2 linked regions of the Homo sapiens genome follow. The protein of the gene in region 1 purifies or fractionates together with the protein of each later gene. This does not show direct contact. Each region holds a gene or a part of one and is shown in the gene's direction. Other genes may lie near its edges. The genes, in order: DNAJC18 and EIF2D.

The links.
Region 2: the proteins of DNAJC18 (region 1) and EIF2D purify together in Homo sapiens (affinity purification with mass spectrometry; one large-scale study listed by BioGRID and IntAct). This does not show direct contact.

What each region holds. Positions count from the first base shown.
Region 1 is NC_000005.10:139,422,507-139,426,025, reverse strand, and holds part of DNAJC18 (dnaJ homolog subfamily C member 18), read left to right. Parts: intron 1-911; coding exon 912-1,021; intron 1,022-3,208; coding exon 3,209-3,318; intron 3,319-3,519.
Region 2 is NC_000001.11:206,598,468-206,602,487, reverse strand, and holds part of EIF2D (eukaryotic translation initiation factor 2D), read left to right. Parts: intron 1-34; coding exon 35-152; intron 153-2,179; coding exon 2,180-2,225; intron 2,226-2,651; coding exon 2,652-2,755; intron 2,756-2,875; coding exon 2,876-3,025; intron 3,026-3,395; coding exon 3,396-3,485; intron 3,486-4,020. UniProt on the Homo sapiens protein: Translation initiation factor that is able to deliver tRNA to the P-site of the eukaryotic ribosome in a GTP-independent manner.

The sequences.
Region 1 (3,519 bases):
TCTCCAGCCCCCAGCTGTGCATAATTTTGACCAAATCATTTAGTCTCTCTGACCCTGTTTCCTCTCCTGAAAAATGGGGCTGTTAATAATACCTACTTCACAGGGTCACTGTGAGGATTAGATATTTTTAAGTGCCTTATAAATAAGTAACAAAATGCCTATTATTGTTGTGTAAAATAGCACTTACAAAGATAGAAGATAGGAAAGTACCCCCCAGCAAGTTGGAAGTTGGTATAATTCAATGCCCAGGAAGTAAATTGAATTTTATGAGTTGCTATTAAAAGATACCAGTGACACAATATGGTATTGGGCACGGAAGCAGACGTGAACATGCCAGATAGGATTCACGGCCCTAATGCTCTCTCTCTTCTAGCCTTTCGGGGTTCTCTCTCACTAGTTGCAAAGGACTATTTAAATGAAGTCAGGAGAGCTCAGCACGCTTTAGCTCCAGCTGGTTCACTTGGCTTGCCTATTGTCTTATTTTTCTACTGGGTAAAATAGGCCAATACTCTATCCTTAACAAACCTAGCTGGGAACAAGGACCTTGAAAAAGGCAAGGAAGGGTCAGGCGCGGTAGCTTACGCCTGTAATCCCAACACTTTGGGAGGCCAAGGTAGGTGGATCACTTGAGTTCAAGAGTTCGAGACCAGCCTGGCCAACATGGTGAAACCCCATCTCTACTAAAAATACAAAAGTTAGCCAGGCATGGTGGCGGGTGCCTGTAATCCCAGCTACTGAGGATGCTGAGGCAGGAGAATCGCTTGAACCCAGGAAGCAGAGGTTGCAGTGAGCCGAGATCACCCCATTGCACTCCAGTCTGGGTAACAGAGCAAAACTCCATCTCCAAAAAAAAAAGAAAAAGGCAGGGAAGGAGTGTTTGCCATATCCCATACCATGTATTTCTTTTCCAGGAAATATTCATATGTTTTCAAATGTGACAGATGACACTTACTATTACCGTCGACGGCACCGACATGAGAGGACACAGACTCAGAAGGAGGAGGAAGAAGAGAAACCTCAGGTACCTAGGGAGGGAGGAGCACTGCTGCCCATAAACAGTTGTACTTGGCCAACCTTGATGGTACATGGTCAAGTTTTAGAAGTTGAACCTGAGATATGTTGCTTTAGGAAAGATGTGCTTTAGGAAAGCAAAAGCAATGGTTAGAAGAGCTGGAAAATTGGCCTAAATAGGCAGAATGGTATCCCCTCCCTCTGCCCATTCTTGGGTGGCTCTCCCAGAATCTCAGCAATCTGTGGGGCTGACTTCATCAAGGCTTTTTTTTTTTTTTTTTTTTTTTTTTTTTTTTTGAGAGAGGGTCTCACTGTCACTCAGGCCGGAGTACAATAGTAGAAACACAGCTCACTACAGCCTCAAACTCCAGGGCTCAACCAATCCTCCCACCTCAGCCTCTCATGTAGCTGGGACTATAGGTGCGTGCCACCATGCCCAGCTCATTTTTTGTAGAGATTATTTCTCACCATGTTTCCCAGGCTGGTCACAAACTCCTGGGCTCAAGTGATCCTCCTGCCTTGGCTTCCCAAAGTGCTAGGATTACAGGCATGAGCCACCGCTCCGGCTTCATAATTTTCTTGGCTGCAGAAAATAGGAATCCTCTTCAAAATATTTAGAACTAAAGGGGGTTTAAGGTAAGGGATCAAAAGAGTCTCATGAAGCTCAAGGACAAGAAGCACAGCTGGGCCTCATGACAGACAGGAACAAGGAACTGGGATACTGTCAGGCTCCCAAGCAGCTGTGCTCTGCAGGACTCTTTGGGCCCAGATTGTCTCCAGTTTTCCTGCCACTCTTTGCCTCTGTTTTGTTTTCACCAAGCAGCTTTGCTTGTTCTACTTCCCCTTGCAAATAGCCAGTCTACAGTGCCTGAGAGTGTGTGTTCTTCCTTAAAGTGATGACCCAGAAGTGAAGGGTGATGAGTTTCAACCCCAAATTCCTAGGAGAGAAAACGTGATTACCTCTGCCAGAGTTGGATGTCCCCTGAGTCCAATCAGCTGTGGCCAAGCATGATGCTAACCTGGCTCCTAGAGCCCCACTACTGTAAGAGGCACAGTCTGGGCAGGTTTACCTAGAGATGTTTGCTTCATTGGTCTTATTAATGGGGCTGCAGGGGGATTACTGGGTGTCAATCCAGGTTGTTGTTGGACCTCCTTCAGCCTGCTCAGCAGAGAGAGTAAAGGTTATTTGGTATAGATTGAGTATCCCTTATCTGAAGTAAATTGGACCAGTAGTATTTCAGATTTCAGATTTTTTTTTTTTTTTGGATTTTGGAAATTTGCATTATACCATTATATATTTGACAATTCCTAATCTGAAAATCTGAGGCTGGGTGCTATGGCTCACACCTGTAATCCTAACACTTTGGGGGAACTGAGGCAGGAGAATTGCTTGAGCCTAGGAGTTTGAGATTAGCCTGGGCAACATGGCAAGACCTTGTCTCTACAAAAATTTAAAAATTAGCTGGACACGGTGGTGTGCACCTGTGGTCCCAGCTTCTCAGGAGGCTGAGGCGAGAGAATCATCAGAACCCAGGAGGTCAAGGCTGCAGTGAGCCATGTTTGTGTCACTGTACTCTAGCCTGGGTGACAGAGCAAGACCATGTCTCAGAAAAAAAAAAAAAAAGGAAATCCAAAATGCTCCAATGAGCATTTCCTTTAAGTGTCATCCTGGTACTCAAAAAGTTCTAGATTTTGGAGCATTTGTGATTTTGAATTTTCTGATTAGGACTGCCCAACCTGTACTTCTCAGCTGAAAGTACAGCCTTCCCAGAAAAGCCTGGGGCTTTGTGGATCCTCCTATGCAGTGCATTGATAATTTGTTATTTTCTTTGGAGCAACTATCTTATTTTCAATAAGCTTTATATTGATAAAGAACACTTACAGGCCAGGCGCAGTGGCTCACACCTGTAATCCCAGCACTCTGGGAGGCCGAGGTGGGCAGATCACGAGGTCAGGAGATCGAGACCATCCTGGCTGCGGTGAAACCCTGTCTCTACTAAAAATACAAAAACTAAGCCGGGCGTGGTGGCGGGTGCCTGTAGTCCCAGCTACTCGGGAGGCTGAGGCAGGAGAATGGCGTGAACCCGAGAGGCGGAGCTTGCAGTGAGCCGAGATCGCACCACTGCACTCCAGCCTGGGCGACAGAAAAAAAAAAAAGAACACTTACAGCAAGTTTTTATTTTTTTTTCTTTTTCAGACTACATATTCTGCATTTATTCAGCTACTTCCAGTTCTTGTGATTGTGATTATATCTGTCATTACTCAGCTGCTGGCTACTAATCCCCCATATAGTCTGTTCTATAAATCGTAAGTCTGGTATTTCTAAATCTTTCTCAGTAACAGTCTGGGGGTGAAAGACTTGAAGGTTTTGCTGATACATTACTAACATTTCATTTCACCTTTTGCTGTAGAAAACACCGATTTGATGTTTAAAGGAACAGCTGGGTAGTCATGGTGCTGAGACTCAAAAATACTGAGGCAGTCTCCTGTGTGCCTCGGGAAATAGAT
Region 2 (4,020 bases), on another chromosome or scaffold:
CAGGAAGGATGTGGCTCTTGTCTTTTCCCTGCAGAACAAATGGATGAGCTGTTACAGCAATGCTTCTTACATGCCTTGAAGTGCCGAGTCAAAAAGGCTGACCTCCCTTTACTCACCAGCACTTTCCTTGGCAGCCACATGTTCTCCTGCTGGTATGGAAAGCACTGATGTGGGCTGGAGGCCGGGGCCGGGGTCTCACGTGTGCTCCTTGGTAGTAGGACAGGATGGGGCCAATGCAGGGACTGGTTGAGGGACATGCTGTGGAAAGAGTGGAGGGAAGGCTTATCTGACAAATACATTAGTTCCTGGGTTCTAAAAAGTTAATTCTTAGCTTGCTGGGCTGTTAAAACAAAATCTTAAATTTTAGCCAATGAAAGGATATTGAGGACCGGAAAGTTAAAATTCCTGAGATTCTGTGAACACTGCCTCTGCCGTGGGGGTTCTGGGCAACCTCACAAATCGGGCAGCGTGTCCTCTGCAGGAAGTGTCCCAGGGCAGCCTCTTTGTCAGGAATCTTCTTCTGGAACATTCAACCTCCTCACACTTCTGAAAAGTATGTGGGGGGCCACATTAGGTTTTATTAGGAGGAAGAATTGGTGTGAACACCCCCCGTCCCGGCCCACCCCATCCAAAACACAAGCCATCAGGAGTGGTATTATTGCGTGTGGATAGAACCTGGATTTTGAAGACAGAGCTGTCTGTACTCAACTGCTAGGTCTCCAGGGTGTTCAAGCAATGTGCATTTTAGCTTGTTACTGGGCTTCTCTGAGTCCTAATTTCTAATAATCATGGGATTGCTGTAAAGATTACATAGCCTGAACCATAATAAGCATTCAGTAAATACTATCATGTCAGGAGGTTTGCTTATTGATTTTTACCCTGAGATTGAATTTATTTATTTATTTATTTTTTGTTTTGAGACACAGTTTCACTCTGTCACCCAGGCTGGAGTACAGTGGCGTGATCTCGGCTCACTGCAACCCCTGCCTCCCAGGTTCAAGAGATTCTCCTGCCTCAGCCTTCCCGAGTAGCTGGGATTACAGGCACATGCCACCATGTGCAGCTAATTTTTGTATTTTTAGTAAAGATGGGGTATCACCATGTTGCCCAGGCTGGTTTTGAACTCCTAACCTCAAGTGATCCGCCTGCCTCGGCCTCCCGTAGTGCTGGGATTACAGGCGTGAGCCACTGTGTCCGGCCTGAATTTATTTCTTTTTGAGAATCTGGCTGTGGTTTTTTAAAAAAGTGATTCTTAATGTAATGTCTTCCCATTTATACTTGGGTGTCTTTAAGCTATCCTGTACAAATGTGGTGTCTGGAGTGTGTGGAGGGATACTTGGTAATCTGTTCTGACTTTCTTGGGTTGCAAATATATGGTAAAGGGGCCCCAGAATATTCTGTAGGATAGGATTCTGGGGTGGATTCTAGAAGGACTCCTCGAGAATCCACTGCTATTGCGTGTCATGTTTTGAGAGAAGATGTAAGCTTTTATCAGGAATGTTCTCTCCAAAACTAATTGCTGTAGTGCAGGGGTCAGCATGTTTTTCTGTAAAGGGCCAGATAGTAAATATGAATATTTTCAGTTTTGCAGGCCACACCATCTCTGTTGCAACTGCTCGATGCTGCCATTGTAGCACTAATGTGACCATAGACAGTAGATAATTAGTTGGCCAGACCTGACCCCAGGATGCGGCTTGCTGGGCCCCACTCCAGGCCTGGCTGCCCACAGTGTGAGTTTGCTGTTGCAACTTTGGAGGCCACAGAAGGTTGTCTGGTCTGGGAGGAATCTAAGGCTGTATCCAATGTGGTAGCCACTGGCCACATGTCGCTATTTTCAGTTTAAATTAATTTAAAGTAAATAAAATTTAAAATTCAGTTCCCTTGGTCACATTAGTCACACTTCAAGTACTTACTACCCACATGTGGCTAATGGCTGCCCTGTTAGACAACACAGAGAACATTCCACGTCTATGGAAAGTTCTCTTGAACAGCACTGATTTAGAATGTCCCATAGTCTGCATCCCTCTCTGCTGTCATCCCTGGGCAGAGAGTTCTGGCACAGTGGCCTCTCTCTGAAGGTGGGGGAGGAAGGCTGAGGAAAAAGGCCCTCCTCTCAGTGTCAGGCAGGTCCCAGTATGACTGCTCATTAGTTTAATTTGCCTTTTCCATCTGCCATCAGCCCCGAAGGACGACAACTGGACATAAAGAAGTCAAGCTACAAAAAGGTAAGCAAGGATCTTCTTTGCAGACCCATGCAGAGAGTTGTGTAGGGGCACATATGACATAAGCCAGATGGATGCTGGGGAAGCCTTGTCTACCAGGCTCAGTCTAGAATTAAGCTTTTTGACTCCAAGTATAAGGGGGAAGAAAGAAACTCTCCCTGGGCTGAAGCAGTTGGTGGCACCCACTTTCCTTTCTCCTTTGACCCCTTTATATCTGATTAGAGTTCTGAACGGCCTCACTGGTTAGTCTCTAGCAGCTTCTTGCTCCCTGGCCCTCAGGTTGGGGGCCTCCCAGTTCCTGGTTGATGAAGGCAGGGGCTGTCTCATATCCCTGCACAGTCCCTGCCTAGCTCACTCTGGCACATCCTGGGTGCTCAGTATGTGTGTGGAATCAATGAAGTCCCCTACCACTGGCCCTCTCTCCCTTAGCTCTCTAAGTTCCTGCAGCAAATGCAGCAGGAGCAGATTATACAGGTGAAGGAGCTGAGCAAAGGGGTGGAGAGCATTGTGGCTGTGGACTGGAAACACCCGAGGTGAGTGCAGGGGGCCTGTCACTGTAGCCCAGCTGGCCCCAGGGCACCTGGGCCACGGACTGGGGATTGCTGAGATGCTAGTATAAAATGTGTTTTTTCTTTCCTTCTGCTGGGTTTTAGGATTACATCTTTCGTCATACCCGAGCCCTCCCCGACCTCCCAGACTATCCAGGAGGGTAGCAGGGAACAGCCCTATCACCCTCCAGATATAAAACCCCTCTACTGTGTCCCAGCCAGCATGACCCTGCTCTTCCAGGAGTCTGGCCACAAGTGAGTTTTTGGAGAGCAGCCCTTCTCTGCCTGCTTGGTGTTCTGGCCTACAGTTCCTCTCAACCTGAGTAGTGCTCTTTTGCGACTGGCAAAACCTGCTCTGCCCCTGTTCTCCCCTTCTCCAAAATCCAGCTTCCAGCCTTCTTCCCTGGGCAAGTTCCTCTGGACTAAATGAACGAGTAGGTCTCACCCTTTTCTGCGTGTAATTATTCTTCACATGGTCATGCTCACTTCAGTCAGGAAAAGGGAAGAAACTAGAGGCCGAAAGCTAAGGAAAGTTCCCTGCTCAGCAGGGAGTGAGTCTGGGCATCTGCATTTTTGTCTCATGGCACAGCATGAACTAACCCCTGGGTCACTTCTCCTCACCTAGGAAGGGGAGCTTTCTGGAGGGCAGTGAGGTCCGAACGATCGTCATTAACTACGCCAAGAAAAATGACCTGGTTGATGCAGACAACAAAAAGTGAGTGCATGAGAAGCACCAGATCTGTCTTATTGGGTCTTTGTCTTTATCAGACATAGACACATTTGGGGAGGATGTCTGGGAGGGAGAATAGAAAACCATAGCATCTTAGAGGTAATTAAGATCAGTGGTTTCCAAACCATGGGCTGTGGACACTCAGTTATTGTCTGGGGTGTTCAGATCCATGTATACGATCAACATTGACTACCGACTAAGTAAATATTCTCTCACAAATACCCATGAATCATCTTTAATTGGCTATTGTGAGGAATAAAATGCAAGCTTACAAAGAATTTACTGAAGTCATCATAGCTTTAGGTATTTATTTTTATTGATAGATATTTGTACATATTTATGGGGTGCATGGTATTTTGTTACATGCACAGAGTGTATAACGATCAAGGCAGGGTATTTGGGGTATCATCACCTTGAGTATTTACCATTTCTATGTGTCGGGAACACTGTAAGTCCTCTTTTCTAGCTATTTTGACATACACAATACATTGTTGTTAACTACAGTCACCTTACTCTGCTC